Linked DNA regions of Homo sapiens: region 2 is linked to region 1. The links come from fine-mapping of genetic effects on gene expression. A gene starts in region 1. The other region holds a variant in brackets. All regions are shown on one strand. Distances are from middle to middle.

Region 1 (5,362 bases):
CTGGGCAGTGGCCTCACCCTGCAGGGCCCAAGGACCACGGCAGCACCTTGGGGTTCCTGCCAGCCCCTGGAAAAGCCAGCAGCATGCCCGACACCAGCAGGGGCTGGTCAGGAGGCAGATTGCAAGCTCAGCTCCACGTGAAGAGACCGAGGGGAGGGAAGGAGGGAGGGAGCTGTCCATCCCTAGAGGTGAGCAAAGAGCTGCAGAACCTCACAGAAGGTGGGCAACCAGCTCCTCCCTTTCCATTGGAAGGAAGTAGGCTCAGAGTTCCCAAGCCTCGGAGTGAGTCAAGACCAAGTGGAGGCCTCTGCGCTGGCGCATGCCCCACTGGGGCCTGGACATTGAGACTGCCCCTGCCCACCCGGACACTCACCCGGAGAAGCAGTGGGCAGCTGTGAGCACCCACTGGGGGCTGAGCAGTGACCCGCCGCACACGTGCACCCTCCGCAGGCGGAGGCTGGCCTGCCATGGCCATGCGCCGGCCGGGGCAGCGTGACCCCCCACGATCCGGCCGCCTGCATCCGAAACCTGCGGCCGGCCACACCCTAAGTCGAAGGAGGAAGGGGTGCCTGGTGGGGATCCCAAGAAACCCACTGCACTTCCTCCATGAAGCCTTCCCTGACCACACCTCCCTGCCTTCTTGGGGACTTTGCTCTTCAGCTCTCTCGTCTGCCAGACTCTCCCCAGAAGCATCGTGGGTGCAGCAGAAATGACGTCTCAGGAGCAGTGAGCGCGCCTGGGGCTCAGGTCGTCCTTTCTAAGCACCATGCTCCACAAACTAACCAGGGCTCCCGGAGGCGGTGGAAAGGCTGCAGAGGGCCCCTAGGCGGCTAGAAAGGGGCTCAGAACGGTGGAGCCCCCGAGAAGGCCCGGGGTGCTGGGGGTGGCTGCCTAGTGGGCCCCGGTTTTCCTTCAGGGGTGGTGGAGATATTCGAAGCTGGATAAAATTCGGGGGGCGGGGGGCAGACAGCACTGTCCAAGGTGCTCGGGGCCTCTGAATTGGACGCTTGATAATGTAACTTTATCTTCTGTAAACTTCACCTCAGTAAGTTAAGAAGAAATTAAGAGGAAGTCAGCTGGAGACCCACTGGCCACACCTGGGTCTGCCTGAGCTGGATAATTGTGCTGGTGATGGAGTGTGGCCACTGGGCTGAATGGAAGGGAAGCTGGGATGTAGACAGACAGAGATGTTTATAGATAGGCAGCGGGTGTGGGGTGGGGCACCGGCTCTCCCACACGGCAAAGCCCCCAGCTGGTTCCAGGGCCACGGTGGGGACGCTGTGGGGAGAAAGTTCGAGGAGGGCCAGGTTGTTTCATGGCCTCAGAGCATCTCCCAAGGTACAGACTGACTACAGTGGTGGTGGGGGAGACAGCCCTGCAGCACACCCCGACCAGCCCCACTCAACCGAGAGATGCGAGCAGAAACCACGGCGACAAACTATGACCTCCCCGGGCCCCCATTGGGACCCCAGGGAAGGAGAGGGTCACCGAGGCCCTCCTGCCAGGCCTTGCCTGCACCCTCCCCCACACCCCACACCTGTCAGAGACGTACCTGGCTGCAAAGTCCTGAGGGACACACCTGTGGGAAAGACGAAGGGCCCAGGATGGAGGGGGCTGCCAAGGAGAGGGGTGTGCGGGCTCCAGAGGCCCCTGCCAGGCCTCAGGGCGGCACTGGGGTGGGGCCTGGTCCTGAGCAGAGGGGCCCGGCCTGGTGAGGCTGGGTCAACTGCTGTCTCACTGGCCCAGGGCTGGGTGGGACAAGCCACAGGCCATAAACGGCAGCTGGAGGCCGGGAGCTTGGCCTCAGGCCTGGGCCTCCTCCCCGCCCTCCAGGTCCTGCTCAGGAAAGAAATCACCAGTGTTCTAGGGCCTGGGACTCCTGGCACCCCCAACTCCCACCCGCACCCCCAACTACCACCCGCCCTGCCAACTCCTGCACCCCCAACTCCCACCCGCACATCCCTCCTGCCTCTCCCCAGCACGGACAGCTGGGCCTCCAGCCAGGGGTGCAGTCTCTTCAGAGGAGACACGGGGCCCCACAGGGTGGGGACTCAGCATGTTTCTCCGTCTCAGACCAGCCCCCAGTTTCACCCCCATCAGGGGTCCAGGCAGGAAGCAGATGCCCCCCCATCCCCACACCCAGGCCAGGTCACCCACCGGGCACAGCCAGGAGCAGCAGGAGGCCACAGGCCCCAAGGGCCATGGTGTCTGCCCACTGTAGGGAGAAGGAGGGCCAGCCTGACCCTTGGACCTGCTGGGCGTGGGGGATAGGGGTGGCCACACACCTGCTGTCAGGCAGGGCGGGAGGACGGAGGAGGAGGCCGGAGCTCCACAGACGGCCCCACCTGTTCCTTCTGCACCTCAGAGAAGGGTCGTCACCTCCATTTATCCCTGTGTGGACGCCACAGCCCTGGCACCAAGTGGCCGGCTCCGTCAAGGGAAAGCGGGGAAGGACAGAAGGCAAAAGTACTTCTCACCTTGTCTCTGCTCCGGGGCCAGGGCTGAGGGAGGGGTGAGTGTTCCTCTGAGTGCCGCCCCCTCCAAAAATTACTCCCTGGTTCCCTCGGGGCACGCCACCCCCTCTCCTTCATCCTCTGGGAGCCCAGTCCTGGGGGTTCTTCAGGAGGGTCCCAACTCAAGGCCCAGCAGCCCTTTGGAGACAGCTCAGGCCCTCGTGACAACCACTCTTTGAGAAGTCCCTGTCCCCACGTCCGGCAGCAGGTCCTGTGCTCGTGCGGCAGATCAGATGGGCACCACTTCACGGCCCAGCCTGGGTTGGCCCTTCCTAACCGTCCTGGCTGCCCCAGCCTGATGACTCAGCTGATTAGGGGCCCTGGGCAGCGCCCGGGACTTTCCTGCCGCCCTCCCCAGATCCAAATCACAGGCCAGGCTGGAGGGTCCAGCTGAGACCTTCTAGGTCAGGGATCCCCTCTTTGATGTGGGGAAACTCAGCCACGGGTTGGGGGGAGTTGCCTGACCACCCACCAGGATGTGGCCTCCCAGGCACAGACGTGGCCGCCTGCACGCCAGCACGTGGGGTAGCCAAGGCTCAGAACTGGAGGTTCAGTGTTTTTCCTGGTGACCAATAAGGACAACACCAGCATGCGGGGCCAGCAGTGCACCCACGGCCGGGCACCCTCCTCCCTCACGGCAGCCGCACACCTGGAGGGGGCGCCTCAGGGGAGGCAGGACAGTCCCACCCCACACAAGGGAGCGGGGTCTGAGCCACGAGTCCCCGGCCCAGGGTGCCCCTAACAGGGCGATGTCACCCAGTGGGGAGGGAGCCTGAGGGGCAGGGTCTTCATGGAACCAGGTCCTCTAGTCCTGACCTCTAGGGCTGTCCCCAGGTCCCCACAGGTGGGGACTTCAGGGCCCTCACCTGTCCCAACTCAATTCACCTGCAGCACTGGGGACCCCGTCTTTCTGCCTGTGCCCCAGCACGCCACTCCCCGCAGAGTGCTCCACACGACCCAGATTGCAGGCCTGCTGGGGAGGAAGAAGCTTCAGGCACCATCCCCTGAGCCCCAGCAGTCCTGTGACATGGTGCCGTTCACCCCCACCATTGGACAGGAGAGCCAACTGAGGAACCGGGAGGGGGGCCTGGCCCTGGTGATTGCCCCCAGCTTGGTGGGGTCTCCTGTTGTCCAGGACCCTGGGAGACCTGGGATTGCTTCTGTCTGCGGTGGCCTGGCCACCTGGGTGCCGTCCCCTCGGTGGGAACCCTGTCCCCCCCACTCGCCCTCCGCCTCACACCCCCCTGTGACGGGGAACCAGGGCCTCCTGCCGGCAGCCACGTGGGTGACCTTGGAGCAGGTGCCCCCGTCCCAGTCAAAACGCAGGTGGCTGCAGCCCTGGCCAGCAGCCTGCCTGCCACGTCCTGAGAGACCCTTCCTGCTGAAGCTGACGCTCACATCTGCCAGTGTCACTGGGCTGAGCTTCACTGAGCTTCCCAGGGATCTTAGATCTAATTTGGGAAGCTCTGGGGCTGGAGCCCGCCCTCCCCCTCCACCCAGTGACCGGCCCCTGCTGTCCACCTTTCCTTACACCGGCAGCCCTGTCCTGAGGGGCCGTCTTGCTTCCCTTCGGGGTCTCATCCCTCCGACTCCCACCCCGCAAAACCTCCAGTGGGCGTGTGGAAGTGCTTCTAGGGGCTCAGTGTTCCCTGGGGGTCACCCCGTGCTGTCTCTGTGATCCCTAGAAGGTGGGATGGGCCAGAGGGAGGAAGAAGGGCCCGAGTTCCAGGTCCATCTTCATTAACAAGACGCTGGGCCTGCAGAACAGGAGCCGAGGGATGGGCCTTCAGGGGCTGCAGAGGCAGAGGTCACGTGGGGCTGGAGAGGGCACTGGGAGTTGAGTCCACCCCTTGTGAGGACAGAGGTCATTTGCAGAGATTCGGGAGACTAAATGCACATCTCTGCATCTAACAGTTGGAAGGAAAGAGTGAATGTTTCTTTAGAGAGTTGTTTTCAACCAGAACAGCCCCGCATTTCATTCCTGAGTGTAATCATGTTCAAATATAAAATGCAAACAAGAGCCCGGGATAAAATGCAACACTCGCCAGACGCAGAGGGCTCACCTATTGATGTAGAGAAAGACCTCAAAATGAATTTGAAAATGTCAAACTCAGGCCGGGTGCGGTGGCTCACGCCTGTCATCCCAGCACTTTGGGAGGCCGAGGCGGGCGGATCACTTGAGGTCAGGAGTTCGAGACCAGACTGGCCAACATGGCGAAACCCCATCTCTACTGAAAATACAAAAATTAACTGGGCGTGGTGGCTCACTCCTGTGGCCCAGCTATATGGGAGGCCAAGATGGGAGGATCGCTTGAGCCCAGGAGTTAAGGCTGCAGTGAGCCCTGATCACACCACTGCACTTCAGCCTGGATGACACAGCGAGATCCCGTCTCAAAGCAAACAACTAGGCAAAGCACAAGCAGTGGACGGAGGGGCCGGGAGAAGAGCTCGTGGGAAGCGTGGGGTAGGGGCTCGTGATGGGCAGCCCTGGGGCTCCCGGTGACCATTCTCTGTCTTGACCCGGTTGCAGGGACCTGGCTGTCCTTTATAATCAACTGAGTTGCCCGAGTGGCTCTGTGTGACCCGAATGCTGGATGCATCGTGTGGGGAGAAGCCAGCCTCGGGGACCAGGGCTGCCCAGGAGGCCCCGTCCCACGGTGACTGGCTGTGCCTTGAGGGCTAGGACCTCACACTGTGGCAGGTGTCCTCAGCACACCTGGACCCCTTCTCTCCCAGTGACATCCACAACCAGAAACACAGCGATGCACACCAGTGATTTCCATGCACTTTAATGAGGTCCAGCACTCAGGAGGATTAGCGCCCACCACCAGCTGCCTGGGCAGGGGAGG
Region 2 (5,362 bases), 26 kb before region 1:
GAGGGGAGGCGGAGGAAGAGCTTCCAGGAAGTCATATGCCTGCTTGTTTGGGAAACATCCTGTCAAATCCGGGCCACCCACCTGCATCAGGGGATGGGGTGGGATCGTTCTTTAAGCACTCAGGGCTACATTCAACTGCTCTGGTTCCTGGGGGTCGGCGCGGCCCCCACGAGGCCGTACCAGGCGCGAGTGCATACTGCGTGTAGATGTGGCCCCGTGTGTGCACGTGCGGGTGTAACACAGCCTTTCTGGCTGCCTGACCTGGGTCCTGGTGGCCTTGGCACTCAGGGCTTGACCTGCAGCAACCCCCCAAAGTCACAGACCCCCAAGGCTAGGCACTCCTTCCCATGGGGCCTCTGGCTTCCCGAAGGGCAGGTGGGTCATCCTCGTGCCGCTGGTCCCTGAGCCTGCCTTCCACCTGCCTGCCTTGGCTCTACTGTGTGGCTCAGATAGGGCTTGAATACTGTGTGACTCTGAGCAACTAGCTGAGCCTGAACCTCAGTTTCTCCTGGAATAGTGCAGTACAGGAGTAACCATGACCCCAAGGGTGGCTGAGCGTGCGGTGAGGGGACGCGTGTGTGGCTCTTGGCCCTTTGCCCGGCACCCACTGTACGTTCAGTCTGCACGCCGGCCTGGCCCCACCTGTTGAAGCGTGAAGCAACCCAGCACACACAGCCCCTTCCTTCCATGGATGTTTACTTTTCAGGTTAAATTGCCAGAGTGGCCCTAATTGTCGCCAGCAGCCTGGCCTCCTGGGGATCTGCTCCTGTCTCTAGGAGAGAACTAGGGAACTCTTCCAGACTGGATAATACGCTTCTCATAATGAGGACACGCTCAGGGCTGCATCCTGTTCTGTTGGCTAGGGGTCCACTCTGACCTCTGGGTCATCTGTGATCTTTGAGGCGGTTGCGGTCTGGCCAGGGCAGTGCTCACTGATTGTCTGCTCCGGTCGGCTCTTTTGACACTTCAGTGCTCCTCCTGGCTCTGACTCACCCTTGTGACCTGAGGGGCCCGTTTTGCCATTGATACCCCTGGGTGCTGGGTGAGAACTCAGCGTCCCCAGGTTCCTGGCCCAGGGCTTTACCTGCTGCCTTAGCCTGGCCCTTGATTAAATTTGAGGGAAAGGACGTCTTGGGGGAGCAGGCCCAGGATGGAGCGAGGGGCGCGTGGGGCTTGGCTGACCCACTTGCTGGATTAATCTGGAGTTCACGTAGCCCATAGCACCCAGGACCGATGGCTTCAGTGCTACCTCCTGAAAAGCCGCTGCCGGTCCTCCCCACCGCCTCCAGCAGCCTCTCTCTGAGATGGGGCTCTGTTCTGGCAGGATTCTCACTGGGAATCAGACAAAGTTTTCAGGATCCCAGACCTGCTGCAGAGACCCCCAGGAGGCAGCCCACCACCTGAGGTTCTGGGGCTCCCAAGGCTCCTGCTGCCTTGGTGGCAACTTCAGGGTGTCGCCAGACAAGCCTCGAGGGCCACTGGGCTCCGCCTGGTCATCCCGAGCCCGAGATGCCACGTGGTCAGACCTGCCGCAGCCAGTTCCCTGCCTCGGCCAGTCCCCTGCCTCCACTCCTGCCCCTCCACACCCCAGCCCTCCAAAAGCAGCAGACCTGCTGCCCTGGGATGGTTGGAGGTGGAGACCTGGCGCCCCGCTGGATGCACGTCAGACCCCAGGGTGTCAGTGTCCCTGGAGGCCGGTGGTGGTAGGAGGGGAGTCCCGATCACACTAGGGGTGCGGGAAAATCACCAGGGGGTGGCCCGAGTCAGTGTGCAGTGGGCGTGGACACCCACTGTGAACAGTGGACGGGGCTCGGGGGTCCCGGGAGGGGCTGCAGCCCCGAGGACACTCCTGCAGGGCTTAGCAGTGCCAATCCTGGCCCTGCTGCCCACAGGCATGCGGATCCTGGTCACTCTGCTGCTGGATACGCTGCCCATGCTCGGGAACGTCCTTCTGCTGTGCTTCTTCGTCTTCTTCATTTTCGGCATCGTTGGCGTCCAGCTCTGGGCTGGCCTCCTGCGGAACCGCTGCTTCCTGGACAGTGCCTTTGTCAGGTGCCCAGGCCCCACCCCCGTGAGGCCCCTGCCCAGATGGCCCTGCCCACCATGCAGATAACGCACCATGTGGCTCCACCGCCCCACGTGGCTCTGCCCACCGTGCAGTCACCCGCCCCGCCACTGCTGTCCCCGTCATGGCTCCGTCCACCATGCTGTCTCCCGCCCCCACCCCCCATCATGGCTCCGCCCAGCTGGCAGTCACCGCCCCACATGGCTCCGCCCACGGTGCAGTCGCTGCACATATGCCCCACCCCCCACCATGGCTCCGCCCACCGCGCAGTCGCTGCACATATGCCCCACCCCCCACCATGGCTCTGCCCACCACGCAGTCGCTGCACATATGCCCCACCCCCATCATGGCTCCGCCCACCGTGCGGTCGCTGCACATATGCCCCACCCCCATCATGGCTCCACCCACCGTGCGGTCGCTGCACATATGCCCCACCCCCATCATGGCTCCGCCCACCGTGCAGTCGCTGCACATATGCCCCACCCCCCACCATGGCTCCGCCCACCGCGCAGTCGCTGCACATATGCCCCACCCCCATCATGGCTCCGCCCACCGTGCGGTCGCTGCACATATGCCCCACCCCCATCATGGCTCCGCCCACGGTGCGGTCGCTGCACATATGCCCCACCCCCATCATGGCTCCGCCCACCGTGCGGTCGCTGCATATATGCCCCACCCCCATCATGGCTCCACCCACCGTGCGGTCATTGCACATATGTCCCACCCCCAGTGCTGCCACCTCTCAGCCCCCAAGACAGGTTAGTCCCAACACTTCATCCCCTCCCCACACCCCAGAGTCCGTCACACCTTACCCCAGGGTCTCCCCTCGGCCCTTGCTCTG[C/T]AGTCTCTCCTCAGCCCTCACCCCGGGGTCCCCTCAACCCTCACCCCGGGTTCTCCCCTCAATTCTCACCCCCGAGTCTCCCCTCAGCCTTCACCCCAGGGTCCCCTGAGCCCACACCCCGGGGTTCCCTGCCCTCAGCCCTCACCCCTGGATCCTCTCAGCCCTCACCCCAGGGCTGCCTCCTTTCCCTCACCCCAGGCTTCCCTCCCCTCGTCCCTTGCCCTTTGCCCCTCATCCGCTTCCAGGAGTTGCTGAGGTCTGAGCCTGGGTTTCTGGCTCTTGGGTCTCCCTCCCTGTTTGTCTGTGCTGTTCTTTGTTGATTTCTCTGTCCATCCCTGTTCTTTGTGTGTTTGTCTCTGTGGACTTGGGCTGAGGAGAGTGTGGTTTCTGCAGCACCACTGTGTTCTTGACCCTGGTCCTGGCTGTGTCCCCTGATCCGGGTCTTGACCCTCAGTCCTATCATGCCCCCTGACCCTAACCGTGCCTCCCTAACCATGATTAGTCCACTGGCCCTGACCCTGATCACGTCCCTGACCTTGATCACGTCCCTGATCACAATCGTGCCCCCGACTCTGACCGTCCCTGACCCTGATTGTACCTTTTGGCCCTGGCTGTGCCCATCCCCAGGAACAACAACCTGACCTTCCTGCGGCCGTACTACCAGACGGAGGAGGGCGAGGAGAACCCGTTCATCTGCTCCTCACGCCGAGACAACGGCATGCAGAAGTGCTCGCACATCCCCGGCCGCCGCGAGCTGCGCATGCCCTGCACCCTGGGCTGGGAGGCCTACACGCAGCCGCAGGCCGAGGGGGTGGGCGCTGCACGCAACGCCTGCATCAACTGGAACCAGTACTACAACGTGTGCCGCTCGGGTGACTCCAACCCCCACAACGGTGCCATCAACTTCGACAACATCGGCTACGCCTGGATTGCCATCTTCCAGGTGGGCGGCAAGATGGTGGGACGGGGACCCTGGGGCACGGCAGGGGAGCGGGTGCAGGACTCGCCCCCCCCAGCCCAGACCCCAGGGGCACGGGGAGGAGGAGGAGGGGTCGTGCGGGCCCAAGTCAAGCCACTGCCCCCCCAGGTGATCACGCTGGAAGGCTGGGTGGACATCATGTACTACGTCATGGACGCCCACTCATTCTACAACTTCATCTATTTCATCCTGCTCATCATCGTGAGTGTGGGCGGCAGTGTTCGCCATGATGGGCCCTGGTGTTAGCTGGCTGGGGGTGGGGTGGGGTACCTGGGTGGTCATAGGGGCTCCTGTCTGTCTTCCAGCTGAAGGGAGCACACAGGGGAGGGAGGCAGAGCTTGCGGGGGTGGGGAGGTGTGGCTGGGGACCCCAAGAGGCCATGGCATCACCTAGACAGGGTCCAGGCCTGTGGGTGCTGGCTCAGGGCTGAAGAGCCAGGAACACCCTGGGGAGTGCATAGCCTCCCAGCACCGCTTTCCACGGGCGTGTGTGGCCCCAGGTGTGCTCCTTAGCTGGTCCTCTCATAGGCCCCAGTGGGTCCTGGCAGAGTTGGGTTAATCAGGCCGCAGACGTCTGTGGGGTCCTAGGTATACCTAGAGCCACCCTGCGGGGACCTAGTAGGTAACAGAAGCAGACAGACGTCCCCAGCTTGTTCTGAGAGAGCAAGCGAAGCGAACGATTAGAGACTTGCTGCACGCTGGTCCATGCTAAGGAGGAAACGCACCTGGGGTGCTGGGGAGGGGAGAGTGGCCACCGTTGAGAGGGTCATCTCAAGGCCAGATCTGCAGGTAAAGGAGGGGCCGAGCCACATGGAGAAGCAGGAAAGAGGGTTCCAGGTCTTTTGTCCAGATAGGCACAAAGCAGCTACTGTATGCCGTCTGCTCCAGACGTGGGGGCTCAGCACTGAACACCGCAGCAGCCTGCCCATAGCAGGGCACCTCGCCCACTGTGCCTGTGACGCGGCCCCCACTCGAACAGGCAGCGCACAGTAGGGCTCAGTGGCGAATCAGAGACTCGCTCACTCACTGCCACTTACCCGCCCGCCCCCGTCACAGGTGGGCTCCTTCTTCATGATCAACCTGTGCCTGGTGGTGATTGCCACGCAGTTCTCGGAGACGAAGCAGCGGGAGAGTCAGCTGATGCGGGAGCAGCGGGCACGCCACCTGTCCAACGACAGCACGCTGGCCAGCTTCTCCGAGCCTGGCAGCTGCTACGAAGAGCTGCTGAAGTACGTGGGCCACATATTCCGCAAGGTCAAGCGGCGCAGCTTGCGCCTCTACGCCCGCTGGCAGAGCCGCTGGCGCAAGAAGGTGGACCCCAGTGCTGTGCAAGGCCAGGGTCCCGGGCACCGCCAGCGCCGGGCAGGCAGGCACACAGCCTCGGTGCACCACCTGGTCTACCACCACCATCACCACCACCACCACCACTACCATTTCAGCCATGGCAGCCCCCGCAGGCCCGGCCCCGAGCCAGGCGC

What was found.
Region 2: its variant is fine-mapped to the expression of TPSG1 in sun-exposed skin (GTEx, PIP 0.91).

What each region holds. Positions count from the first base shown.
Region 1 is chr16:1,223,050-1,228,411 of GRCh38, forward strand. TPSG1 (tryptase gamma 1) reads right to left here and starts at 2,219. Exons shown (of 6, transcript NM_012467.4): 1 at 2,158-2,219; 2 at 1,553-1,579; 3 at 374-545. The coding sequence starts at 2,203. It overlaps LOC124903621, which reads left to right and starts at 2,202. Exons shown (of 2, transcript XM_047434997.1): 1 at 2,202-2,512; 2 at 3,405-4,191. The coding sequence starts at 2,202. The coding sequence ends at 4,191. TPSB2 (tryptase beta 2) reads right to left here. Exons shown (of 6, transcript NM_024164.6): 6 at 5,287-5,362. RefSeq lists a silencer at 1,071-1,257.
Region 2 is chr16:1,196,723-1,202,084 of GRCh38, forward strand. It overlaps CACNA1H (calcium voltage-gated channel subunit alpha1 H), which reads left to right. Exons shown (of 35, transcript NM_021098.3): 6 at 1,893-2,052; 7 at 3,534-3,849; 8 at 3,994-4,086; 9 at 4,941-5,362. It overlaps LOC124903623 (a long non-coding RNA gene), which reads right to left and starts at 4,989. Exons shown (of 3, transcript XR_007064938.1): 1 at 4,922-4,989; 2 at 4,610-4,667; 3 at 4,084-4,499. RefSeq lists enhancers at 1,297-1,856, 1,857-2,414. The variant C/T (reference allele first, on the strand shown) is at 2,907.